Regions from separate parts of the Homo sapiens genome. Here region 1 is linked to region 2. The links come from fine-mapping of genetic effects on plasma protein levels. Region 2 holds a variant in brackets. A gene starts in the other region. All regions are shown on their forward strands.

Region 1 (16,664 bases), not on the chromosome of region 2:
GGGCCATAAAGCCTTCCCCGGAGTCCCACTGCCAGGTCCCACTGCCGGGCCTCCAGGCTTTGCTGCTCCACCTGGGCTCAAGCCTGGCCATACTTTGTTCTAATGACTCTGTCCCCCTGTGGTACACTCTCTACCACAGCCACCCTGGGCTCCCCATACCCACCCCAGGACCTTTCCTCGGGGCTTATCTTAGCTCTGATAAGATCCACCCCTCAGGGCCCACAATCTCAACAGTGTCCTAACCTCGGTAAGAGTCTCTAGCAAGAGGTGCAGCCTGCAAGATGATCTTCGCATTCCTGCGCTCACTTCCTTGAAGATGGGCACCATGGCTTTGGAGTTTGAGACCAGCCTGGCCGACAGGGTGAAACCCCGTCTCTACTAAAAATACAAAAAATTAGCCGGGCGTAGTGGCGGGCGCCTGTAGTCCCAGCTACTTGGGAGGCTGAGGCAGGAGAATGGCGTGAACCCAGGAGGCGGAGCTTGCAGTGAGCCGAGATCCCGCCACTGCACTCCAGCCTGGGCGACAGAGCGAGACTCCGTCTCAAAAAAAAAAAAAAAAAAAAATACAAAAATTAGCTGGGCATGGCAGCACACACCTGTAATCCCAGCTACTCGGGAGGCTGAGGCAGGAGAATTGCTTGAACCCGGGAGGCGGAGGTTGCAGTGAGCCAAGATCGCACCACTGCATTCCAGCCTGGGCGACAGAGCAAAACTCCGTCTCAGAAAACTAAATAATTCCTTGACACACTTGCCATAGTATTTCTGTGTACGGTAGGCACCCAAATTCTATTGTAAAACAAAATATAAAAACACTTAAGTGAATAAATTCTGTAAGAAGCAGGTATCTAAGACATAGACACCAGGCCCTTCCTAACTGGTGAGGTCTGGAGTTCCCTCAGGCCATGTGTGGTCCAGCTGTGATCAGAGTTTGAGATCAAAGAGCAGCTGCCGTCTACCAAGGACGTCTTCCCCATGGAAGACAACCACAGAACCTCCCAGGTCTTTGGAGCCATCCCTGAGACCAGCTAGGAGGCCAAAGGACACTGATGGCATCCTTTCCCCAGAGCTGGTTACAGGTCTGCCTCGGACTCCCCTCGTGGTGGTAGTGTCTGAGCGGATCCTGGCTGCCCAGGGCGGCCGAGTGCAGAATGAGGGTGGAAGAGGAGAGAAAGGCAAGATCGTTACCATCGCTCAGCTCCGAGACTAGGCAGATACTCACAAGAAACAGAAGACTCGAAACCTATAAAAAGACTCCTTTTAAATGGCAGTGACTTGACGTTTGGAGGGCCACAGGCACCTTTGAGAAGTTGGCGGCTGCCACTGTCCACAAAAAAAACACGTACGCGTGCACACACAAACACACACACACACACACACACACACACACACACAACTTCACTTACAGTTTCCGGGCTTGTGACCACCCCCAAACCCGCCAGGCCTATCTCTGGCTGGGTGTTCACACACTCTGGGTTAGGACCCCTCTTTTATAAAGACTGTTCCTCAATTTGCTTCTTAGCGTAAACACACTCTCAACCTGACTTGCTGGGGCTCCGGAAGCTTTCCCTGGGCTCCAGTCTGACCTGGCTGACTGGGGAGTAGCTCAGCCCTCAGTTGTAAGGTGGGAATCATCGGGGCGGGGTCTCTGTGCCCTTCCCTCTGCCGCTGCACAGCCACGTCCCAGCAAATGCACGAGGGCACCAGGGCGTCAGGGCACAGGCTGCAGGGGTCCAGGCAGGTGGGCCCTGGGAGGTCCTGGGGACACCAGCTTCATCCTGCCTGCCACTCTGAGACATCCATGCTCCTGACCATCTCTCCATTGGGAAGTCTGGGTCTGCCCGCCTTCCCTCCTCCCAGCAATCTCAGGGCAGCTCATCTGCCTGCTTACTCCACCCCCCGACACTGAGGTGGTCAGCCTCCACACTTTCTGTTCAGACCCACGGGCAACAAAAACAAAACCTTGGCCAAGCACTCACAATATCAGATATTCATTAAAAAAGTATATATAGGCCGGGCACCGTGGCTCACATCTGTAATCCCAGCACTTTGGGAGGCCAAGGTGGGCAGATCACTTGAGCTCAGGAGTTCGAGACCAGCCTGGGCAACATGGCGAAACCCCATCTCTACAAAAAATTAAAAAAATTAGCTGGGCGTGGTGGCTGCTTGGGAGACTGAGGTGGGAGAATCGCTTGGGCCAGGAAATTGAAGCTGCAGTGATCTGTGATTGCACCACTGCACTCCAGCCTGGGTGACACAGCAAGACTCCGTCTCAAAAAAAAAAAAAAAAATTATATTTGGAGTACAACTCTGAATCCATATGCTAACTATTCATAACATTCTTAGCACCGAGGCTGTACTGGGCACCCCTCCGGAGACGACTGGTCTATGCCAACTTTGGCGGGCGGCAGCAGCACCTGGAGAGTCCTGAAACTCCAGTGCCACCCCCAGGCCCGCTCCAGCACGCGGAGTTAGGCGGCTGCCTTCTACCAGGCTCCCTGGGCAACGCCCGCTGTCATTCCACAGCCAGAACATCTTTGGTGGCTGCGTGGGTCCCGGGATGGAATGCAGATGTCACATGACAAGCCAGAGCCGTGACATTTGGCCCCAATCTCCTTGTGGGTCCCCCTGAATCCCCAGGCTCCTCTTTGGCCTACTCTGTACCCAGAACTCTCACCTTTCCTGGGGCAGTTGGTCCCTTGGCTTAGAACACCTGTGCACACCCCACCCTGCTGCCGCTAAATGACCAGGGGTTACGGTCCCCAGTGCCGTCCTCCAGATGCGGCTTCTTCACCCTCCCTTACCTTGATTTCTTCACTCTGCCCTCCCCTCTTGAAAAAGACCATCTGCTGGGTGCGGTGGCTCAAGCCTGTAATCTCAACACTTTGGGAGGCCGAGGTGGGCGGATCACGAGGTCAGGAGATCGAGACCATCCCGGCTAACACGGTGAAACCCCGTCTCTAATAAAAATTCAAAAAAATTAGCCGGGCATGGTGGCGGGCACCTGTAGTCCCAGCTACTCGGGAGGCTGAGGCAGGAGAATGGCGTGAACCCGGGAGGCGGAGCTTGCAGTGAGCCAAGATAGCGCCACTGCACTCCAGCCTGGAGACAGAGTGAGACTCCATCTCGAAAAAAAAGAAAAAGAAAAGAAGACCATCCTAGCCATGCAGCCACTTGCCCTCCGTCCCTGGTTTGTGAGCCTGTGCGTGCACCGGGGGACAGAGAGAGTGTCCAGGGCATGCACCCCTCCTGCCCCTGCCACTGCCACGTCTGCCTGTCTTTGCTTCCTTCTTATCTCCTCCTCCCTGCTGTTGCATCCCTCCTCGCAGCTGCCTGGGAAGCCTCGGGCAGACCTCTTTGTTGTTTCCGAACCCAAGACGTTCACCCCTACACACGACCCCCACTGCATCGAGTCAGTGGTTCTGCATCAGGACTGGAGACGGCTGCCCGCGCCTCTCAGTCTCCCAGGAGTCATCTATGCCCTGTTCTCCATGTGCTCAGATGTCGCCACAGAGTCTGAACCTCTCAGCCCACACCAGTGGCATCTACCTAGCAACCTGGCTGCGACAGCAGGGAGGAGGGAGGCAGTACCCAAGCCCACCTGCAGCTCACAAACGACAGGCCAGGACTGCGTACGTGGCTCTGCACCCCCAGAAGGGTGCAAATAGGGGAGGCCCGAGAGGCTCTGAGGCTGGCACTGTCCTCAGATCCCAGATAGGGAGAAACGTGTGTTGTCCAGAGAGCTCCTTCCAGCACCTGCCATACCTCCAGGCTGTGCACAGCTCTCCCTGCTCTTCCAGTCCCCCTGCCTTGGGAGCTGCCAGTAATTCAGGGGTCAGTGACTCCCCTGACAGATCCTGTCCCTCCAAGGACGCTGTTCAAAACCAAGCCGAAGAGCCTCAGTTCTCCCCACAGCTCCCTCCTCAACCTACCATGGGGCCTTCTATCCTCACATCTTGCAAATGCATTTCACATTGTCACATGATTACTCCTGAATTTTGGTTATTTCGAAAGTTTATCTGTTGTTAATTATTTACCGAAACCACACTGAGTGGACTGACTTTATACCACACCTGGGCAGTTGAGGAGGGGAGGCCTGCTCACCACGCCGGGCAGCAGGAACCCCCTTCCACACCGCCTGGTGCCAAGATGTACCACCCCCTGCATCCCCCACCACAGGGACAATGTCTTGCTTCTCCCTTACATCCCCGGGGGCAGAGGCAGCCACTCCATAATTGCTTGTTGAAACACAGACAAGCCCAATATGAAAATCAAGATGAACAAAACTGACAATACAGATCGATCACATACTTCGCACAACGAGTTGCCAACAGTTTCTTTAAAAAGCGCCACGCCGCCCCCTCGCATGGAAGGCCTGACCCAGCTCACATGAATCTGATGCTGTGTTGCTTTTCCTGAGCACGTGTCCTGAAGACAGAGCCATTTTTGACTGCGTGCTGTGTGTTTTCTGGGGTGGCCCCTACTATCTGTCTGGTCCCTGTCACTGTGTCCCCCAGGAACCAGGTCACCCTTGGCTGTTCACCCCAGAAAATAGCAGTTGTTCCCCCTCTTGGTTGTGGACCCCTCTCTAGCTGGAGCTGGAGCTCCTCGGGGGATTTGCAGAGGACAGTTTCTGGAGGTGGGAACATGTGAGGAAGATGTCATCGCAGAGGTCTTCTAGGATAATGTGTGGCCTTAGGTACTGCCACCCAAGCCAGAGGAGAGGTTTTATTCTCTGCATCCAGAGAGCTCCTGGCTTTACCCTTGAGTCCAGAAACGGGCCCAAGCAGCCCGAGTCTGCCAAGTAGCTCAGCTGGCTAAGTGGCTCCAGGCATGGGACTGCCTGAATGGTGAGCCCAAAGCTAATTTCCAGCCAGATCCCTGTAGCTGTGCAGGCTGGCAGTAGATGTGAAGGATTTCACTGGGTGAGAGGGAGCCGGGCCAGCAGCGCATTTGAACAGTACTGTAACTGAGACACAAAATGCTTCCCGTTTGTGCTGGCCTTGCTGGAAAGGACAAGGACCTGGGGCCTTCCAGGAAGAAATCAGGTCACCTCTTACCATCCCTTATCCTAAACATCACCACCTCATCATGAATTATCTTTGCCGACCACAGTTCCGGTCCTACCAACTGCAAGAGCTGCTAGGGAGATACCTCCCAGAAATCCTCAGCCGGGCAGACAGAAATCTGACTGTTTCTTAAGCCAATTGCCTCTTGTAGACACCAAGCCATTTAACAAGGCTGCATGCAGCCAAGAGTAAAAGGAGCCAGCTTGCCACATAACAAGCCAGCCTTTATTAACCTCCACTGTACCCCCTTTCTGAGACCCCTGGGTCACAGCCCTGGTTAAATCACCTGTGGGCCTTTTAAAACTGCAAAAGCCGAAGTCTGAGCAAGACCCTCTGTATCTGCAAAGGGACCTAGACCTGAGCAATCTTTAAGAATCTTCCAGGCAATTCTGCTCTGAGCCAGAATGGGGAACCATTGCTGAGAAAGTCACAAACCTGCATCGCTTCGAGGAGAATCGAACACTGGAGAATAGACAGGCCGCTGTCGTCCCTGTGGGATTTGTTCCGGGACCCTACCCTGGGATGTCCTGGGTTGTTTATCCCAAGTTGGTTGAGCACGGAAAGGGTGACTGGGAATAAGAGAAGGCAGCCTGGTGTATGGGCTGAATTACGTCCCCCCTCAAATGCACATCTAGTCAGATCCTATGAATATGACCTTATTTGGAAATAGAGTATTTGTTGATCTATCAAGATGAAGTCATACTGGATTAGGGTGGGCCCTAAATCCAATGGCTGCTGTCCTTAGAAGAACAGGGCAATTTGGCCGGGCGCGGTGGCTCACGCCTATAATCCCAGCACTTTGGGAGGCTGAGGCAGGCGGATCACCTGAGGCCAGGAGTTCGAGACCAGCCTGGCCAACATGGCGAATTCCTGTCTCTACTAAAAATACAAAAAATTAGCCGGGTGTGGTGGCAGGTGCCTGTAACCCCAGCTACTTGGGAGGCTGAGGCAGGAGAATTGCTCGAACCCAGGAGGCGGAGGCTGCAGCGAGCCGAGATTGCGCCATTGCACTCCAGCCTGCTCTCCAAAAAAAAAGAACAGGGAAATTTGGACACAGAGACACACGAGAGAAGGCCATGTGAAGACAGGCGGAAATGGAAGTGATGTGTTCCTTGAAAATGGAACCAAGCAACATCAAGGAGAGAGGCCTGGAAGAGATTCTCCCTCACAGCCCCCAGAAGGAACTGGCTCTGTGGACACCTTTTCAGACTTCTGGCCTCCTGAGCTACAGAGAATCGATTCCTGTTCTTTTAAGCCCTCCCATTTGTGGTAGTTTGTCACAGCGGCCACAGGAAGCGAATGCCCTGAGCTCTGCAGTGCAACTCTGGCATCTGACTGGGCCTCTGAGCCGGGATGGGGTGAAAAGTTTTAGCTACAGGATGATTTTGATGCAAAGATTTAGACACAAATGCCAGGCAACCCAGAAGAGGAGAGTGCTGCGCTGAGCATGAAGGAGGCGGGAGGCACGCACTGCAGCCCTCCACCCTCTGCCATCCTGGATCCACACCCCACGCAGAAACAGCTCCCAGCTCAGTGGCCGCCTTAACTTATGCCAAGCAAGGACAGAGTGGCTGCCTGGACATTCTCCCACACAGCTGAGGAGTGTGTGTGTGGGGCGGGGTGGGGGGGGGGGCGGGAGGGGGAGGGGTCCCAAGGCCCAACTCCTACAAATCCAACTCCCAGGTCCTTTTATCCACAGCCTCCTTCTGGGCCTTGGCTACATCCTGCCCCAGCACGTGCTGGTGAGCCAAGGAGCCTGGACAGGCCTGCACTCCTCGTGGACCCCCAGAGAAAGGCCCATTATGGCTCCCTCATCAAAGGAACCTCTCCTTCACCCACAAATCTTGCTGAGCACCAAGGCTAAACTGGAGAAAAGACCTCATTTCCCCCAAACTGGGTTTTGTGGAAACTGACACAGGCACACACCAAGCCTTCCGCCCAGGTGGCCTGAGCCACCTGAGACCTGTGATCTCAATAGATTGGTGCAACTGAAAACTTCCCCAGCTGGGCACGCAGCTCCTAGGGCTAACCGGGGTGGGGCAAGAAGCCGTGGGCGGGGTATGGGAAGGGCGTGGCTGACAGCAGGAGAAACAGAAAGTCCCACCTCCACTCTGGGCAGGTGAGGGGGCCCCCGCCTTGCTCCATCTGCCCTGGACAGGTCACTCGACTGAGACTCAGACATAAGAAGGAAGGAGGGCAGGGGGCTCCGAGACCACCTGCCGTGTAGCCAGACTTGCCCCAGGAAAACCATGCTGACCAGCACCAGGGCTGCAGAGGCTTGAGGTGCAGGACCAGGGTGGAAACTTCGAGCCAGCGGGTTCCTCCCATTTCTGCTGGTCCTCCCCCTCCATGGATCAGAACAAATAACTGGGCCCCTCCTGCCTCCCTCCATGGCGCCTGTCTTTTGGGGGCTAGGAGTCCGGAGGTCATGGGTATTTGCTGGGGAATCTGAGCAGCAGCACAGTCCCACGTGCCGGGTCCGGTCACCAAAGTCTCCAGCTTTTGTGGACGTCCCGAAAAAGCGGAACATTCGGGGGTCCCGGTCCCTGCCCAGCCAGTTTGCAGGGCCTCCTGGGCAGGGCGCAAGCAAGGAGCCACGCCAGGAGACGCCACCGGCTTTTTCACCTGCCCCTCTGGGCCTGTGGAACCTGCCTCGGGTAGGGCGGGCTTCCATCCCACCCTGGCTTGATCGGGGAGCCCCCAAATGGGGCTGGTGGGAGAAGCCCCAGCAGAGAAGCCCTTCCCCACCCAGCCCCAAGCCCAGAGAAGCCCAACTCCCACCTTATCTGCGAAAGTTTCTTCCTGGGGTCCCCAGTCCTCCAGCCCCCCGCCCCCACGCCGTGTCCCCCACGCTCCCCGCCCCCAGCGCTGGCATCCCAGGGCGCGCCGCCTGCCAAAAGCCAAACTGGCTCCCTTTCCTGGGGCTGGAGCTGCGGCGGAATTTCGGTGGAATTTTGAGGTTGAGACGCATCTCGGCAAAGAGAGGGAAAGAAAGGGAGAGGAGGGAGGGGGGAAAGAAAGTCGGCTCTGGGCGTCCACTTGCAGGATTCGAGAAGGCGCCGAGGGACCAGGAGGCGGGCGCTGGGGTCCCTCGGCCAGCGGCGGGCGGGCGGGGCGTCTGCGAACCCTCGGGGTCGCGGGGGAGGTGGGGCCCCGCGCGGGGGCTGGGGTCGCCGCTCCTTACCTACATCTGCATTGCAAAACGCCTGTTGCGGGTGCACCGGGGAGCAGCTGCAGGCGTCGGCCGGGCGAAGCAGCGTCGCCAGCAGCAGGAGGCCGAGCGCCAGCCGCAGGGTGCGGGCCGCGGCGCCCATGGCGGGCCGGGGGGCTGGGCGGGCGGGGGCCGCCGCTGGGGGGTCCGGGCGCTGCTCGCGGCGGCGGGCTGGGGGCGCGGGCGGGGGCTGAGCCGGGGCCGAGGCGGGCCCCTCCCGCGCGGCTCACCCTCCTCACCTGCCCCGCTCGGCCGCGCAAACTTTCTCTCCTCTTTGTCTCGGGGGCGCGAGGGGAGGGGCGCGGGGCGCAATTCGCCGGGCGGGGCGGCGGGGTGGGGGGCGGCGGGCGAGCGGCGCTGCGGTTCTCGGCGGCCGCGCTGCCTTCTACGGATGTGTTTGCTGCGGGCTTGGGCCGGGCCGCAGTTTTATTGCGCTCGGAGGATTTTCTGCTCCTCCTCCCGGTGGCTGGCGGCCAATGCAGGCTCTGGGCGCTCCCAGCAGCCCCCTCCTCCCCCTCCGCCCGCGCCTCCCCCCAGCCCGCGCTTTTGTTGTGCCCGGCCTGGCACGTCGGGGGCTTCCCGCACCACCTGGCGCCCGCGACCCGCACCCGCGCGGGGGTCCCCGGACGCCCCCAGCCCCCCGACCCCGGTCCCCGCTGCGTGGCCTTCTGCGCCCGGGGTCCCTGACTCAGCGCGGGGGACTCGCGCCCCGTTCTTCCAGGACACCAGGCGACCCACCCGCTACCCTTTCCCCTTCAGCTCGACTCTGGAGGGCTACGCTGCTCCGTCCCCCGCCACCCCGGGGTCCCTTCGAGCCCAGCCTCGGGGCGAGCCAAGGGGTGTCCTTTGGAGCAGGGGCCGTTCCCTGTCGCCACCTCCCCGTTTCTGTGGGCGGGTGGCCTATTGAGAAACTGACAGGATCCCTTTTTCAAATGGAGGCCTTAGAATTTTAAGTGCGCCTGGCCAGTTTAGTTGGGGGGTGGGGGGTGTGGTTACTGTGAACAAAACAGGATTTTATATAAACTGGCCATATTTTTGACCAGCCAACAAGAGACGGGGGTGGGCCCAGGCGCCCAGGAGCCAGTAGGATCGCAGCAGAGGCATTGGCTGGGTTCCGCTCACAGTTTCCTCTCTTAGTCCACAAATGTGGGAGCCGAAGGACTTTTCCCAAAACAGTTTTGTGTTCCAGGAAAGACCCAGGCATATGAAGGGATGAACATGTGTAGGGTGGTGAGGCGGGCTTCCTGGCTGTGAACCTGCCTGTGCCCGGCTGTGGGCACCCACCCTGTACATTTGGTGTGTGCCCCGTGGGGCTCCATGGACACTGCTGCACTCAGGTCAGCACTCCAGCCCTCAGGTCAGCATTCCAGAGTGTTTGCAGTCCAGCTAGGGAGAGGGAAGCCCAGGAAAATGACACAGGAAGAATCAGGGCGGGCACGGTGGCTTGCGCCTGTAATCCCAGCACTTTGGGAGGCCGAGACAGGAGGATCACTTGAGGCCAGGAGTTTGAGACCAGCCTGGCTAGCATTTAGTAGAGACAGTGAAACCCCGTCTCTACTAAAAATACAAAAAATTAGCCGGGCTTGGTGGTGGGCGCCTGTAGTCCCAGCTACTCGGGAGGCTGAGGCAGGAGAATGGCATGAACCCAGGAGGCGGAGCTTGCAGTGAGCCGAGATCATGCCACTGCACTCCAGCCTGGGGGACAGAGCGAGACTCCATCTCAAAAGAAAAAAAAAAAAAAAAAAAGCCCGGGTGCAGTGGCTCATGCCTGTAATCCCAGCACTTTGGGAGGCTGAGGTGGGCGAATCACGAGGTCAGGAGTTCGAGACCAGCCTGGCGGCTAACACGGTGAAACCCCGTCTCTATTAAAAACACAAGAAATTAGCCGGGCGTGGTGGCGCGCGCCTGTAGTCCCAGCTACTCAGGAGGCTGAGGCAGGAGAATCGCTTGAACCCGAGAGGCGGAGGTTGCAGTGAGCCGAGATTGCGCCACTGCACTCCAGCCTGGGCGACAGAGAAAGACTCTTGTTTTTTTTTGTTTTTTTTTTTTTTTTTTTTAAAAAGAATTGCCCACTAAATTGTGCGGTGCTGACTTGAGGTATGAAACTTTGGAAAATAGTGAAAGAATGGAAAAACAGCTTCTTTCTGTTTGTGTATGTTTTGTAACAGACAGTTCTGAGAAAAGTTAAATAAGCAATGCCGTTATTTTTAGCACCCTGACAAATCCAAAGTCACTTTTTTGGTTTTTGTTAGCGTGAAATAGAGTTGGGTCGTTCACAAAATGATGTTTGAAGCTAACGTTTAAAAGTACAGTTAATTCAGAAAATTGTTATGTGCTGGCTGCCTTCAGCCATTTCATCGTTTTCTTTCCTTCTTTTTGGTTACAGGGGGAACAAAATGCTGTTGAACTTGTGTTTCAATTTGTCAGTTCATGATAGAAACAGGTAGCATAGGGGCTCTCGGTCTTTTAGACAAGCTCTACATATAAGTGATCAGGTACATGTTAGGGTGATAAATACCTTAGAGCAGTTGTGGTGCTGACAGCCAAGGGGGTGGGGCCAATGTGGGATGTACCTGGGAGGAAAGGGGGGCCTGGGCTCCAGGGTTGGGGGGCGTGAGACTGGAACTTCCAACCCAAGGCCTCGCACCTGTATCCTGGACTGCCCTCCCCGAAGTCATCCCCACCAGCACACAAACAGGCTGGAATTGCTCCCAGGAAAAGTGAAGCAGAAATCTTGCCAGGTGCAGTGGCTCACGCTTGTAATCCCAACACTTTGGGAAACTAAGGTGGGAGGATCACTTGAGGCCAGGAGTTTGAGACCAGCCTGAGGAACATACTGAGACCCCATCTCTACAAAAAAAAAATTAGCTGGGCGTGATGGCTCACACTTGTAGTCCCAGCTACAGGGAAGCTGCGGTGGGAGGATCGCTTGAGCCTGGGGAAGTTGAGTCTGCAGTGAGCCGAGATCACACCACTGCACTCCAGCCTTGGTGACAGAGTGAGACCCTGTCTCAAAAAAAAAAAAAAAAATCTCTCCCCTCAATTCCCCCACCAGAGAGTACTCTACTTTTCTGTTCCCTCTACCATTATCTCCTCCAAACAGGTCTCTAAACCAGAAGTTTCCAGCTTTCTTTTCCTCCCTTTTCTCTTGGTTCTCTCTCTCTCCCTCCTCCCTCCATCCATCAACAAATACTCATTTGAGTATCTGCTGTAGCCTGGACACCGTCCTAAGAGTGAGACATTCAGCGTCTACAGAACAGAGGAACATCCCTGGAACAGCAGGTGGAAACACGCAAGGCCCCAAGGTTGGACGATGCTGGACCTGGTGGAGCCCATGGTGTGGCGAGGAGTGAGAGGAAGGAGGGCTGAGGCAGGAGGCCAGGAGCAGGGGCTGGGAGGGGACACGGCGGAGGGCAGCCAGGCTACCGGGAGGATGTGCATTTTGTTCTGAGTGAGGTGGGAGCCTTTGGAGGGTTCTGAGCAGAGGGGCAGGATCGGACGCATCCCCTGGAAGGATGGGACTCTGGTGGGTGGCCTGGGTGGGGGCAGGGAGCCCAGTGAAAGGGCAGGTGCTGGAGATGCAGAGACTCCAGAGTCACAAAACCCCTTTCTGGTGCAGTGCCGTGAATGGCTGACCTGCGGCTGCAAAGTCAGATGAAGAGGGGACTGAGGTCTGAGGGCCCAAATGACTCTCCCAAGGGCACAGCAGGGAGGGGAGAGGACAGTCCCAGCAGCCAGGCCTCCCTCGCAGCCCACAGCCCCCAGCTTGCTGACCCAGTCATCTCCCTGCTGCTTGGGGCCCTCAGGGTCTTGGCTCCTGAGCCAGCTTCTGTCTCATTAACCACCCTCCACCTTCTCTTCCAGTTAGGGTCCTCACACTTCAAAATCAAGGAAACTGAGGCCTCAGACCAGGAACCTACTGAAGACAGGGAGTAGACTGGAATCTGGCTCATGGCAGCACAAACCCACTTTTTCTTTCTTTTTTCTTTTTTTTCTTTGTTTGAGAGCCGGGGTCTCACTCTGTCACCCAGCCTGGAGTGCAGTGGCTTGATCTCAGCTCACTGCAACCTCTGCCTCCCGGGCTCCAGTGATCCTCCCACCTCAGCCTCCTTTGTAGCTGGGACCACAGGTATGCGCCACCACACCTGGCTATTTTTTGTATTTTTTGTAGAGACACAGCTTCTGCAAGCTGCTCCTTCTCCTTGTCCTTCTCTGTGCTTTGTGGCCAAGAGGGCTTGACCTTGCAAGCAAACTTGAACATGGGGAGGGGGCTGCCACCCATAAGGGAAGTGACAGGGTCCGCATGCCCCATGCCCAGGGCAAGAGAGGAAGGAGGAAGGCAGACCCCGGGCTGGGAGCTCCCTCCACTGCTTCACTGCTTTTTTTTTGAGACAGAGTTTTACTCTGTCTCCCGCTGGAGTGCAATGGCACCATCTCGGCTCACTGCAACCTCTGCCTCCTGAGCTCAAGCAATTCTCATGTCTCAGCCTCCTGAGTAGCTGGGATTACAGGTGCCCACCATCACACCCGGCTAATTTTTGTATTTTAAGTAGAGACAGGGTTTCACCATGTTGCCCAGGCTGGTCTGGAACTCCTGAGCTCAGGTGATCCGCCCGCCTCGGCCTCCCACAGTGCTGGGATTACAGGCGTGAGCCACCGCGCCCAACCCATGGCTTCACTCCTAACCAGCCCCCTTCACTTCTCATCTTGATATTGGTGGGTGGACTACCATAGGGACCATAAGCGACACCCAGCCCAGATGCAGCCTGGGGGACCCTGGCTTGGATCAGCTTAAGAGCAGAGGCTCTCAGCCTCTCAGGACAGACAGGAGCACGAGGGAGCCCTGTGAAGTATGGGGGTGATTTCAGGGCCCTCAGACCACGCTCCAGGGGCCACCGCTTCCCACGAGGAACATCGTCTTGCTCCCCCACCCCCTCAAAGAGACCTTCCTGGCAGAGAGCACAGCAGAGCTGTCAGGCGTGTGTGCACCCTCGCCTGAACACACCAGGCGAACACCTCCCAGGCTGGACCTGATGAATCCTGTCCGGGGCCGGAGGAAGTGCCAAGGCCTCCTCCCTGTCGCTCCCGTCTCAGGCCACCAGGCAGGACGCCCTCCCTGCTGCGCCGGGCTGGCGGGAGGATGCTGCTCTTCTCGGTGGCCTCGCCCTCCCAGTCTGGATGAGAGCCATCTTCCCCTGAGCAGGTCACGTTCTCTCTGTGGAGACAGCTTGAACGGACCCGAAGCCCCCACGTTCTTTCTGGCAGGTTCCTAGAGAGCCAGATGTTCTCATCCAGAGACAGCATGGACGTTGGCCCCACACACCCGGGAAATTGACCCCCTGCCGATGGCTGGAACTCCGGCCCTCAGGGGAGTGTCCAGGGCAGTCTCAGGGGCAGGGAGCCGGCAGCTGTAGAGGAAGGTGGGGACCGTGTCTGAGTCTGGCTGTCTGGGAGGTGACACTTCAGTCAGGTGACACGTGGCTGTCAAGAGTCTGAGGCCCGGCTGGATGGGCAGGCAGCCCATCTGTGCCTCCCCATCCAGCCGGGTCTCAGACTCTTGGTCACAATGGGCACCCAGCCCACGTGTCCGTCCCCAACATCCACTGGTGGGGCTGTTCACCACAGGACATCCTGAAGATGACAAGAAGGTGAGTCAAGAGTGATGGCTGGGCGTGGTGGCTCACGCCTGTAATCCTAACACTTTGGGAGGCCGAGGTGGGCAGATCACTTGAGGTCAGGAGTTTGAGACCAGCCTGGCCAACATGGTGACACCCCATCTTTACTAAAAATATAAAAATTAGCCGGAATTCACTTGAACCAGGGAGGCAGAGGTTGCAGTGAGCCAAGATCCTGCCACTGCACTCCAGCCTGGTCAACAGAGCAAGACTCAATCTCAAAAAAAAAAAATAGAGTGACTGGGACCCACTGTGCTTGAGACAAGATACACAGGCAGCATGAGCGGCTCATCGTGTTCTATGGTGGACGTGCTGAAGGGCATTTCAACATGGATTTCATTAGCCATCTTCTTTAGGGGCCGGGCTTCTCCGCCTTGGCACAGTTGACATTTGGGCCAGATCCCTCTTTGTGGGGGGCTGTCATGGGCACTGTAGGGTGTTCAGCACCATCCCTGGCCGGACCCACTGGATGCCAGCACCCTCTCCAATTGCAACCATCAAAAATGTCTCAAGACATTGCAAAACGGTCCTGGTTGGAAACCACTAACAAACCAATAAAAGTCTTTGGTCCTGAGCAAAGCAAGGTGCAGAGACATAGGAACAAACAGGTTCTATAGAGAACAAGAATGCAGATGGGAGAGTGAAGGTCCCCACAGCCTGGAGACCAAGACATGCACCATGCTGCCGACACCGATTGTCAGGGGAGAGAGGCCAGGCACAGAATAGAATTTTTTTTTTCTTTTTTGAGACAGAGTCTCGCTCTGTCGCCTAAGCTGGAGTACAGTGGCACAATCTTAGCTCACTGCAACCTCCACCTCCCGGGTTCAAGCAATTCTCCTGCCTCGCCTTCCAAGTAGCTGGTATTAGAGGTTCCCACCACCACGCCCGGCTAATTTTTGTGTTTTTAGTGGTGACGGGGTTTTACCATGCTGGTTGGGCTGATCTCGAACTCCTACCTCAAGTGATCTGCCTGCCTCGGCCTCCCTAAATGCTGGGCTTACAGGCATGAGCCACCGCACCTGGCCGAAAAAGATTTTTTATAAGTGTCCATGGTATGGACACAGTGTCTTGCACCTGTAATCTCAGAACTTTGGGAGGCTGAGGCAGGAGGATCACCTGACACCAGGAGTTTGAGACCAGCCTGGGCAACACAGTGAGACCCCATCTCGACAAAGAATTAAAGAAATTAGGTGGTCAAGGCCAGGTGCAGTGGCTCATGCCTGTAATCCCAGCACTTTGGGAGGCCAAGGAAGCTGGATCACTTGAGGCCAGGAGTTCCAGAGCAGCCTGGCCAACATAGCGAAATCCTGTCTCTACTAAAAATACAAAAAATTAGCTGGGCATGGTAGCATGCCTGTAGTCCCAGCTACCCGGGAGGCTGAGGCACAAGAATTACTTGAACCCAGGAGGCTGAGTTTGCAGTGAGCCGAGATCGTGCCTGTACACTCCAGCCTGGGCGACAGAGCGATACTCTGCCAAAAAAGAAAAGGAAAAGAAAAAGAAAGAAAGAAATTAGCTGTGCATGGTGGCATGTGCCTGTAGTCTCAGCTTTTTGGGAGGCTGAGGCAGGAGGATCACTTGAACCCAAGAGTTCAAGGCTTTAGTGAGCTCTGATTGGGTCACTGCACTCCAGCCTGGGCAACAGAACAAGAGCCTGACTCTTAAAAAAAAAATTTCCATAATAAACAGCATGTATAATACTTCATATATGTGAAGTCAAATATGTGAGTGGATCTAGAAAGAAGTATACAGGCCAGGCACGGTGGTTCACGCCTGTAATCCTAGCACTTCTGGAGGCCACGGCAGGAGGATCGCTTGAGCCCAGGAGTTTGAGACCAGCCAGGACAACATGGCGAAGCCCCATCTCTACAAAAAATACAAAAATTAGCCGGGCATGCTGGCACACGCCTGCAGTTCCAGCTACTTGGCAGGCTGAGGCAGGAGGATCACTCGAACCCAGGAGGTGGAGGTTGCAGTGAGCCGAGATCGTGCCAGTGCACTCCAGCCTGGGCGACAGAGTGAGACCCTGTCTCAAAAAAATAAAAAATAAAAAAAAAGAAGCATACAAAGGTGTTCACAGAAAGGTTAGTGGGTGCGCCTGGGCAATGGGAACTCAGGTAGGTGGGTGTCTTCTGTCCTGTTCCGTGTGGAGCAGGTAATGTAATATTCCGATGAGGGTCCGGCCCTGAAATGGGCAGGCCTGGGGGAAGGAGCACAGATGTTTCCCACCCTTTCTGTATAACACTATTAAAGCCTTCTTGGCCACAGCCATCAGGGTTTACTTTTTAAAGATCCTGCTCCACCTTCCAGCCACTCTTGGTTCACGCCTCCCTTTGGTTTTCTTGTTTGCTTGTTTTTGTTTTGTTTTTTGAGACAGAGTCTCCCTCTGTTGCCCAGGCTGGAGTGCAGTGGCACAATCTCGGCTCACTGCAACCTCTGCCTCCCAGGTTCAGGCAATTCTCCGGCTTCGGCCTCCCAAGTAGCTGGGACTACAAGCATGCACCACCACGCCCGGCCTTCCCTTTGGGTTTTGTTTGGCAGAGTCTGTTGATCTATTTCATGCCATCCCACAGGCCATCTTTGAGAAGGTGGGACTTTGGCCTCTCTCCGTCACTTCCATCTCCTGTCACCCCAACCTACCGCCCCTCCGCAGACAGGCACCCCTCAGGGCAAAAGCAGCCATGAGCCAGGGCACCTCCCTTTAGCAAACCT
Region 2 (10,163 bases):
GGTTCGGACCTCGGCAACTGGCCGCACTGACCCGTCAACTCCCGGTTTCCCGGCGCACGCCCCTCGTGAGATGCTGTGGTCTTTTCTAGCAACGTCGACAGGCTTTCCAACAAAATTCCTCTTTCCTGCGCAGAACCGCTCTCCACTCGCATTTCTTCTGCTCAGATCCGTATTCCGAGCCCGCACGCATACCAGGCTGTGCTCAGGGTCCGGAGGAGGCCGACCCAGTAGCCGTGGGCCCTGTCGGAGGGGAGCCAGCTGGGCGCGCGTTGTTTTCTGAGGTGGCCGCGCTGTCTTTCAGGGTGTGTGTACATTCGAAACTCCACTGAACCTTGATTGAAGACCTACAGTGTGGCAGTCCATGGCCTGGGGACTGGTAAGGATTGAGGCCGTAGGATGGGCTCGAGTGTGGCGGTGTCCCCAGGGCCCCAGTGAGCAAGTGGGTGTGCTGGGAACCTGGCCACAAGTGAACCTCCTCCAGGCGAGGGGATGCCCTGCAGCATCCAGCCGTCAAAACCTCCTGTAGAAACGGGAGCGAGCATCAAGCCTGTGTGTGTGCATGCTTGGGCGGAGTCTACCCGGAGGAGAAAGAGGCTTCCGGGCTGGCCCTCCAAAGCCGGTTGTACAGGCGGCAGCTCAGGCTGCTCACTGCGGGCCCTATGACCCTTTCTGGGGCCCTGCTTGCTCTCTCCAGTCTGCTTTTGTATATTTTGTGTCCATATCACCAAATCGTCTCATTGGTTCTAAGCTTTCATTTACCTTCCTTAGATTGTCTAATAGTTGTCTCCTTTCTCAAAGCTGTTCCTGCAGTTTTTACTTTAGTCCTAGGTAATGGGGTGACAGCCCCTTTCAGTTATCTTCAGCAAGCACAGCAGCATGAGAAGACGCAATTACAAGTGAAGTCTCTTAAGTCAGAGCCCTGCTTCTACCTGGCATAGTCTCTTAAACTGTCAGTTAAGAGACTACATATAAACAATACACGTTCAGACTCGGCGCGGTGGCTCACGCCTGTAATCACAGCACTTTGGGAGGCCAAGGCAGGAGGATCTCTTGAGCCCAGGAGTTTGAGACTAGCCTGGCCAATATAGTGGGACCCCCATCTCTACAAAAAATTAAAAAATTAGCCGGGCGTGGTGGTGCACGCCTGTAGTGGTGGGAGGATGGCTTGAGCCGGGGAGGAGGGGGTTGCAGTGAGCCGAGATTGCGCCACTGCACTTCAGCCTGGATGACAGAGCGAGGTCCTGTCTCAAGAAACAAACAAAAACCATGTTTGGGAATACATGTGAAGAGCGAGGGCTCTGCCAATCATTATCATCATAATGAATATTCTAACTAATATTAATCAGTTACTATGCTCCAGGGTTGTGTTCAGTGCATCATTCCTATTACCGCACTAAATTATCACAGCGTCAGAACAAGGCCTCCGTTTTACGGCTTAGGGAATTGAGGCACAGATGGGCTAAGGGAGCACCTGTAGAGCAGGGATGTGGTTTGGTAACAGAGTGCATGCTCTTTATACTGCTCTTCTGCGATTATTGTGAATAAAGCGCCTACAAGTGCCTGTGGAACTGTAAGTGCCCCATACAAGATAGCTTTTATTAATTTTAGGGTTCTCACGGGGCGCTTACTTAGATTTTTGCTGTGATAATTGATAAAGTTCAGCTTTCAACACTCCATATCAAATTCTGTTACTTTAGAAGTCTAGGCACCAATCACGTCTCCGAAATAAACGCAAGGCATTGCATAATTGCATTTTGGAATGTGGTGCTGTACATAGTCCATCAGAGAGGGTCATCACTTCTATCTGGGTAT[T/G]AGGAATAAAAATGGCGGTGGCAGAGTAGGGGGCGCGGCTGCCAACTGCGAGCTCAGACCTGCACTGGGGAGGCAGGGGGCGGGGCCGGGCCGGCGCCACGTGGGCTGTCCTTCCCTTTTGGGCCGTCCCACCTCCAGAGCTGAGGCGCCTGCGCCAGCTCCTTCGAGGCCCTGCTCGGCTTCAGGGAGCACGCGCGCCCTGCCGTGCTCTGATTGGCGGAGCTGCACGCCCCCGCTGCAGTCTGATTGGCGGATCCGCCTCGCTTTAGAAGGTCGGCGCCCAGTTCCGGCACTCGTGCGCCTACCAGACAGTGGCGGAGGACGGCGCTCGCTAGTCTCCCAGGTCGCGGTACACGGCGAGAACGGGCGGGGCGGTCTCGGCTGCGTCCGGGCGATCCAGTGCTTAGTTCCGTCATATCCCTCTCCACGACCTCGGTCGAGCATGTTCACCAGGGCCCAGGTGAGACGGATTCTGCAGCGGGTGCCCGGGAAGCAGCGATTTGGCATCTACCGGTTCCTGCCCTTCTTTTTTGTCCTGGGAGGAACGATGGAGTGGATCATGATTAAAGTGCGCGTGGGCCAGGAGACCTTCTGTAAGTGAGGGGGTAGCAGTCTCTGTTTCCTTTCAGGAAGGCACGAGGCGGTAGGGATCCGTTTTTCTGGGGAGTATTCTCAGATTGCAGACCGCGCATTCCACTCAGAGCGCTGGGCGAGTGCAGTTCCATTCGCTTGGCAGTCAGGGCGGCCTGGCTCTCCTGTAGGCCGGGCACATTGGCGTCCAGCCTTGTGACCTTCCCTGCACTTACAGGCGAGATCACGTGCTTCTTCCAGCCCTCTCATGCCTGCCCTTCACCCCTGCCGGTGACATCGTTTGGGCTTAAGGAACAGACTTGCTCACAACAATCGTAGAAGGGGGTGGATATGAGGGGTCAGGGAAACTCCTGCTAACTAGCCATTTCTCTTTGGATTCTTCTGTCCAAACTCTGGAGGGAGCTGATCTGCCTGGCTTTGCTAATTACCACTACCTTTACAGGACAGTCATTGGCACCAGGTCTTTGGTCTGGGTCCAGATGATCAGCACTGTAAAGATAGTGGTAACGCCTGGCACTGCATTACTGAGCATTAACTCTGGACAGGCCAGTTCCTTTCAGGAGGACTTCCCCAACCCCTCGGCCCTTTCTGCTTTGCCCCTCTCCTGAAACGCTATCACTTGTGACTTGCCAACCCACATTTTAAAGAATTGTTACATTAGTGATTCCTAAAGATCCTTAGTCCTTCTGTTCATCCATTCATTGATACTTAATGAGCATTCTTGAGGGGCTATAATGAACAAGGCAGAGGTGTCCCTTACCCCAGAAGAGCTCTAATGGGAAAGAAGATGATAAAGACAATTAGCATACAAAGTGATCAGTGCTGTGAGAAGGAAGTGGGAGGAACATAGGACTCTCGGGTGGGCGCCTCAACTGGACTAGATGGTGCAGGGAAGGCTTCCGGAAGCAGCTACCAAGTAAAGTAGGACCTGAAGACTGAGTAGGTGTCAGTCAGATGAGGGGAAGGTGTGTGGAATTGAAAGCATCTCCATGGCAGTGGTAGGAGCACTTGTGTGAGAGTATGCTGTGTGTTTGAGGGATTGAAGCAGATCAACAAAGTGGGGATGGCTAGAAGGGTGCCTGGGCAGGGTGGCAAAGGGACTGGAGAACCAAGAATGGATCCCAAGGATTGAGTCATTTTAGGGAGAGGCTTTAACATGTGGAGAATGGCTCCTTGTGGACAGATTGGTAGGAACAGTTACGCTGTATGGCTGTCCAGAGTTGAGACAGTGGCCTGGTCTAGGTTGGGGCAGAAAGGATACCAAGAAGGGATGGAAGTAAAAGACAGCCCAGAGGTAGTACTGACAGGGCATGGTGATTAAGTGGACTCAGGAGATGAGGAGTGGAGGCTTCTGGTGGGACACCTGGGGCAGGGGGTAGTGCATTTCCTGAAGGTGCCGAACACAGGCAGGGCCATCCTGGGCACCATCTGGGACGTGACGAGGTAGATATGGTTATACAGAGCTGAAGCTCAGGAGGCAAATCTGGGCCAGAAATTGGGATTTGTGAACCATTCAGAAGCAAATTATGATGGAAGTCAAATCCCAACATTTTAATTTAATTTATTTATTTTTTGAGACTGAGTTTCGCTCTTGTTGCCCAGGCTGGAGTGCAGTGGTGCGATCTTGGCTCACCGCAACCTCTGCCTCCCAAGTTCAAGTGATTCTCCTGCCTCAGCCTCTGGAGTAGCTGGGATTACAGGCATGCACCACCACGCCCGGCTAATTTTGTATTTTTAGTAGACATGGGGTGTCTCCATGTTGGTCAGGCTGGTCTAGAACTCCTGACCTCAGGTGATCTGCCCACCTTGGCCTCCCAAAGTGCTGGGATTACAGGCGTGAGCCACTGCGCCTGGCCCAAATCCCAACATTTTAAGGGTAACTGAGAATGGCCAGAAAGGCAAGGAGGGAAACCAGGAGGATTTGTTATCACAGAAGACAGGAGGTTAAATACATCTGGCTCTGTGAAGGGGAGGTAACCCCCCTTCCTCTAGGAGAGACTGCAGGATATGCAAATAATGATCTAGAAGGAGAGGGTGGAGAGAGGCTGGAGATACTGGACCCTTGAGAGGGTGGGACCAGAGCTGGGTGACAGGAGTAAGCCCTTGGAAGTTAGCTGGAAGAGTTCCTTATGATGACTTTCCTCTGTGAAGGAAGAGAGGAAATGGCCATTTGGGGGTGGGTGAAAAAGAGTCAGGATGATGGCTGAGGAAACAGGATTGTCAGACACCTCAGTGGACCCAGTTAGAGGCATCAGTTGGCCCCTCAGGACACAGCAAGCAGGGTGAAGCATGGGGAAGGGAGGAAGTTGGATTAATCTGTGGTTGGGGTTTTGAGGGTGTGTCAGGAAGTTAAGATATTGACAAGAGTATGAAGGAATTTTAGCTGATTTGCCAGGAGAGAGAACAAGAAGCGGCTGAGCGGGTAAGACGGGGCCAAGGACCTGGGGAAGAAACGTGAGGTCCAAGGACAGGAGGGCTGGAAAGGTAACGGGGGTTGTGGTATGAACAGAAATCCTTCAGAGGAGCCCTGCAAGTGACTGGAAGATGTTGAAGGTGAAGGGTACTGGAGCTTCATCCCCATGGGTAATGGTGGTATCTGGGGAGAAGGCACAGGACAGGGTCAAGGAACCTGAGCCAGAGGCCAGCACTTTTGGTGACTGAAGGGGCATGATGGAGAGCAGGTGCCAAAGAAAGATGGTGGCAGACAAATGGCATGAGCCATGAAGGAAGAAGATTTTTTTTTTTTTTTTTTGAGACAGAGTCTTGGTCTGTCACCCAGGCTGGAGTGTGGTGGCACGATCTTGGCTCACTGCAGCCTCTGCCTCCTGGGTTCAAGCGACTCTCCTGCCTAAGCCTCCTGAGTAGCTGGGACTACAGGTGCCTGCCACCACACCCGGTTAATTTTTGTATTTTTAGTAGTGACGGGGTTTCACCATACTGGCCAGGCTGGTCTCAAACTCCTGACCTTGTGATCCGCCTGCCTCGGCCTCCCAAAGTGCTGGGATTACAGGCGTGAGCCACTGTGCCCGGCCTGGAAAGAAGATTCTTTACATGAAGGTGGCGAGTCAAAGGTCTGGCAAAGCAGCAGCTGGAACAAGGAAACTGATCTCCTCTCCCCACCTGAAGGTTTCTGGATATGGGAGAGGGAGCATCAGAGAGCCAAGAGGCAAGAAGTGCCTTTGAGGAGCCAGGTTTTAGTTAAGAAGGATGACTTCAGAGCACAGAATAGAAATTATGGGGGAGAAGGAAGTGAGGGACATCTTAAAACACTAAGAGATGTGCTAAGACATGATTCTATCTTTCAAGACACTGACTTTTACCCTATTTAAGTCTAGAACTCCATTATCATAGTCCTCATCTAACTCAAGTTTTGTTTTAAGTTTATTTTGGCATTGAGTTAAATATTAATGCCAAGATTCAGAAGTAGGTGACAGACCTAGACTATTGGTTAAATTATTCAGATTGTTTTAATTTTAAATATGTTTCTTAAACATCTGAGCAACTTTTTGTTTGATACAGATGATGTCTACCGTAGAAAAGCCTCAGAAAGACAGTATCAGAGAAGGCTGGAAGATGAATGAGACTGAACTTCAGCAGTCAATAAAGTCAATATGAATTTTTACTATTGGTTTCAGTGCCTTTTAAAATATACTTTTCAGATCTCTTGTTCTGACACAGCTTGTCCTTTATCAGCTGCACAATATTCCAATAACTGTTTTTGCAAAGAATTTTTATAGTTCTGTCTCTGCTTGAGTACTTCCCAAGTCACTGCTGGACAGCACTTGTGGGAAAATTATTTCCTCCTAAAACACTCACTCGATGAATCTAGTCCATGAAATATTTCTTAAACAATTCAAGGATCAATCAGGATGCTTTTCAGTGAAGCCCGAATTGTTTTCGGCAATCTTTGTTTTTAGGCAACTAATTATAACCTTATTTACTTTTTTGCAGAATTCAAATTAAATTATGGACACATTCTCTATTGCCAGATCATTTAAACCAGGATAATTATGCAGGTTGTATTTCTGCCAGCTACTAGACTATAAACTTTTTGCTAGGGTGGTGGAAATTCTTGATTGACTACGCATTTCTCATGCTAGTGTTCTTGTGAACAGAAATATGCTCCTCCCTTGCTTGGCTCCCCTAAACTGCAAGGGCTGGATCTTCATGAGGACTGTGGGCAACAGGTTTCACACTACTCTAGGATGAAGATGTTGCTGTTCGATTCAGCTGCTAGAAACAGTTGCTCCTTCCATGAGAAAGTGAACCTACACAGTATAAAGCATCCCAGACTTGAGCTAAATCAGAGGCTCAGTCTATTGAGTGATTTGGCAATCTGACCCAGTGTAAGTTTGGATCAGCCTGGTAGAAAAAGCAGATACCTTTCCATGCTTGCATAGCCACATCTAACATCGTTTCAAGCAAAAAAAAATCTACATACTAAAGACTAAGTTTCAGAATAGTTTCTAACTATTGCATGAGAATAAAGCTGATGCTTAAGGCCATAGGGTATCCTCAAGTTAATGATCTCTGCCACAAACATGTCTCCTAATTTTTTCTAGATTTTTCTTCTAATTTTAGTCCACTTATCTTAGAACCAATTCAGTAAAGAACCATTAACTAACTACTCCCATCTCCTTAAAGCACTACCTACACTACAGTGCAGCAAGCCCAGAGTCACAGCTGGGAGATGGCTTGAATGTGAAAGGCCAGTAATGACCTCTGCCATCAGGGAGAGGACGGTGGTTCATCGTATTCTCATGCCCAGTTGTGTCATCTAGGATTCCTGGTAAACCTAACCTGATAAACCATTTTTAGTGACTTGACTGCTGTATAAAAACTATAGTATGATTCTCAATTATATGGCCATACTCCATGTTTGCCCTAACCCACCTTGTTTTAGGAGTTTAGTATTTGATACATATAGAAAATACGTCATACCTTTTACAAAGAATAATAGTAAACACTAATAAAACCATTGGCTAACTTTTGTGTCTGCTGTGGGTTCATTCCCTGGCCCATCCCCCTGCTTCCACCCCACAGAGAACCATTAGACTGAATTTTGTGTTGGCCTTCTCTAGAGCTTTCCTCTCCATTTCTTTTTCTTCTTTCCATTAGAATGTTAATTTATTTAAGGACAACAGACTTTGAAAATGATGGCCAGGGTTGGTGGCTCAAGCCTGTAATCCAAGCACTTTGGGAGGCTCAGGCAGGAGGATTGCTTGAGGCAAGGAGTTCAAGGCCAGCCTGGGCAACATACACTCCGTCTCTATTAAAAGAAAAAAGAAGGCTGGGTGCAGTGGCTCACACCTGTACTTTCAGCACTTTGGGTGGCCGAGGCAGGTGGATCACCTGAAGTCAGGAGTTCGAGACCAGCCTGACCAACACGGAAAAAGCCCGTCTCTACTAAAAATATAAAATTAGCTGGGTGTATGGCTGGGCATGGTGGCTTACGCCTGTAATCCCAGCACTTTGGGAGGCTGAGGTGGGCAAATCACGAGGTCAGGAGATCGAGACTATCCTGGCTAATACGATGAAACCCCGTCTCTACTAAAAATACAAAAAATTAGCCAGGCGTGGTGGCGGGCACCTGTGGTCCCAGCTACTCGGGAGGCTGAGGCAGGAGAATGGCGTGAACCCGGGAGGCAGAGCTTGCAGAGAGCCGAGATCGCGCCACTGCACGCCAGCCTGGGCGACAAAGCGAGACTCCGTCTCAAAAAAAAAAAAAAAAAAAAAAAAATTAGCCGGGTGTGGTGGCAGGCACCTATAATCCCAGCTACTCAGGAGGCTGAAGCAGGAGAATCGCTTGAACCTGGGAGGCGGAGGTTGCGGTGAGCCGAGATCGCGCCATTGCACTCCAGCCTGGGCAACAAGAGTGAAACTCCGTCTCAAAAAAAAAAAAAAAAGATTGGACAACTTCTGACTTTTAGGCAGGTAGACTACCAAAGCAATTATTGTATTCAATGGAAGATAGGTTTTCAGAGCACATTAGTTTGGATGCTGTGAGTGAGAACTCATTTGTTAGGGTGCAAGCTTTTTTTGAGATGAGTTTCACTGTCACCCAGGCTGGAGTGCAGTGGCATGATTATAGTTCACTGCAGCCTTGAACTCTTGGGCTCAAGCGATCCTCCTGCCTCAGCCTCCCAGGTAGCTGGGACTAGCTAGCTACCATGCTTGGCTAATTTTTAAATTTTTTGTAGACACAGGGTCTTGCTGTGTTGACCAGGCTGGTCTCAAAATCCTGGGCTCAAGCAGTGCTCCCACCTCAGCCTCCCAAAGTGTTGGGATTACAGGCATGAGCTACTGTGCCCAGCTAAGGTATATAAGCTTTTAATTTTTCCTCAAAAGTATTTTTAACTCTCCTACTAGGAATGACTCTATCCTACTTATCAGACACTGAACTATTTAAGGGCGCCAGGAGTAGTGGCTCATGTCTATAATCCCAGCACTTTGGGAGGCTGAGGTAGGAGGATTACTTGAGCCCAGGAGTTCAAGACTAGCCTGGGCAACGTGGTGAAACCCTGTCTCTACAAAAAGTACAAAAAATTAGCCAGGCCTGGTGGTGTGCACCTGTAGTCCCAGCTATTTGGGAGGCTGAGGTGGGAGAATCACCTGAGCCAGATCAAGACTGCAGTAAGTATGATCCCAGCACTGCACTCTAACCTGGGCAATGGAGTGAGACCCTGTCTCCAAAAAAAAAAAAAAAAAAAGCCGTGAAAAGAATTGCAGTACCACCAACTGTAAACTACAGGGCATAAATTTTAATAAATTTCAAGAACTATACTTATTGCAGAATGCTGAAAACCTGATTAGCATTTATTACTAGAACTCTACCTCCACTGTGGTGTTGGGGAAAGAATATGGGCTTTGGAGTGTCACTTTATTATCTGAATTTATAGAGAAAGTACCTAATAATAGTACAACAGTATTACAGCCCCCCCCAAAAAAAGAAAGAAAAAAAGTAGTGAATAAATGAGTTATTTTTGTTCATCTAGCAGTTCTATTTTGGAAGTCTTACCTACATCCCTGATGTGATATTTAATCTCCATTTTGTGTGTGTGTTTAAATTTTTCACACTGAATTAACTCTCTTTAAAGAAATATACTCTTAGCTGGGCGCGGTGGCTCACGCCTGTAATCCTAGCACTTTGGGAGGCCGAGGCAGGCGGATCACGACATCAGGAGATCAAGACCATCCTGGCTAACACAGTGAAACCCCATCTCTACTAAAAACACAAAAAATTAGCCGGGCGTGGTGCTGGGCGCCTGTAGTCCCAGCTACTCAGGAGGCTAAGGCAGGAGAATGGCGTGAACGACAACAACAAAAATATATATATATACGCACACACACACTCTTGGACCCTGTTGTTTTCCAAAGTAATTTATCTCCTAGTAAAGCATGTTAGTGCTTAGTCTTCACACGAGTATTAAATCTGGAGTTTCTTGTCTCATTTATGTGCTATCTGCAAGATGTAAATACCATGAAATAGCCAAAACAGGGAAAAGGGACAGTCCATTAATTTGTTTAGTTCTGAACTTTCATTCAGGGACCTAACATACTTCCAGGCTAAAATGGAACAGAGTAGGCTGGGCGCAGTGGCTCACACCTGTAACCTTAGCACTTTGGGAGGCTGAGGCAGGTGGATCACTTGAGGCCAGGAGTTCAAAACCAGCCTAGCCAATATGGAGAAACCCTGTCTCTACTAAAAATTCAAAAATTAGCCAGGCATGGTGGCGCATGCTGCAGTGAGCCAAGGTTGC

Direction of the effects. Alleles are on the strand shown, and positions count from the first base shown. The strength of an association depends on the size of the effect and on how common the allele is.
In carriers of allele T in region 2, the plasma level of the protein whose gene starts at base 8,679 in region 1 tends to be lower than with G alone (weak association).

The links. A credible set is the group of variants that fine-mapping cannot tell apart. PIP is the chance, under the fine-mapping model, that this variant and not a neighbour inherited with it causes the effect. Protein levels are from antibody-based Olink assays in UK Biobank. Linkage for the fine-mapping came from a reference panel and not from the study's own genotypes, which makes the PIPs less certain.
Region 1: it holds the start of TIMP2, and the variant in region 2 is the best candidate, but not a certain one, in a credible set for the plasma level of the TIMP2 protein (UK Biobank, PIP 0.61).

What each region holds. Positions count from the first base shown.
Region 1 is chr17:78,916,709-78,933,372 of GRCh38, forward strand. TIMP2 (TIMP metallopeptidase inhibitor 2) reads right to left here and starts at 8,679. Exons shown (of 5, transcript NM_003255.5): 1 at 8,251-8,679. The coding sequence starts at 8,380. RefSeq lists enhancers at 1-544, 1,995-2,970, 6,839-6,908.
Region 2 is chr3:52,534,502-52,544,664 of GRCh38, forward strand. UQCC5 (ubiquinol-cytochrome c reductase complex assembly factor 5) reads left to right here and starts at 2,104. Exons shown (of 2, transcript NM_001124767.2): 1 at 2,104-2,405; 2 at 5,923-7,389. The coding sequence starts at 2,255. The coding sequence ends at 5,984. It also overlaps a transcript of NT5DC2 not described here. RefSeq lists a silencer at 1,790-2,089 and an enhancer at 2,423-2,956. The variant T/G (reference allele first, on the strand shown) is at 1,813.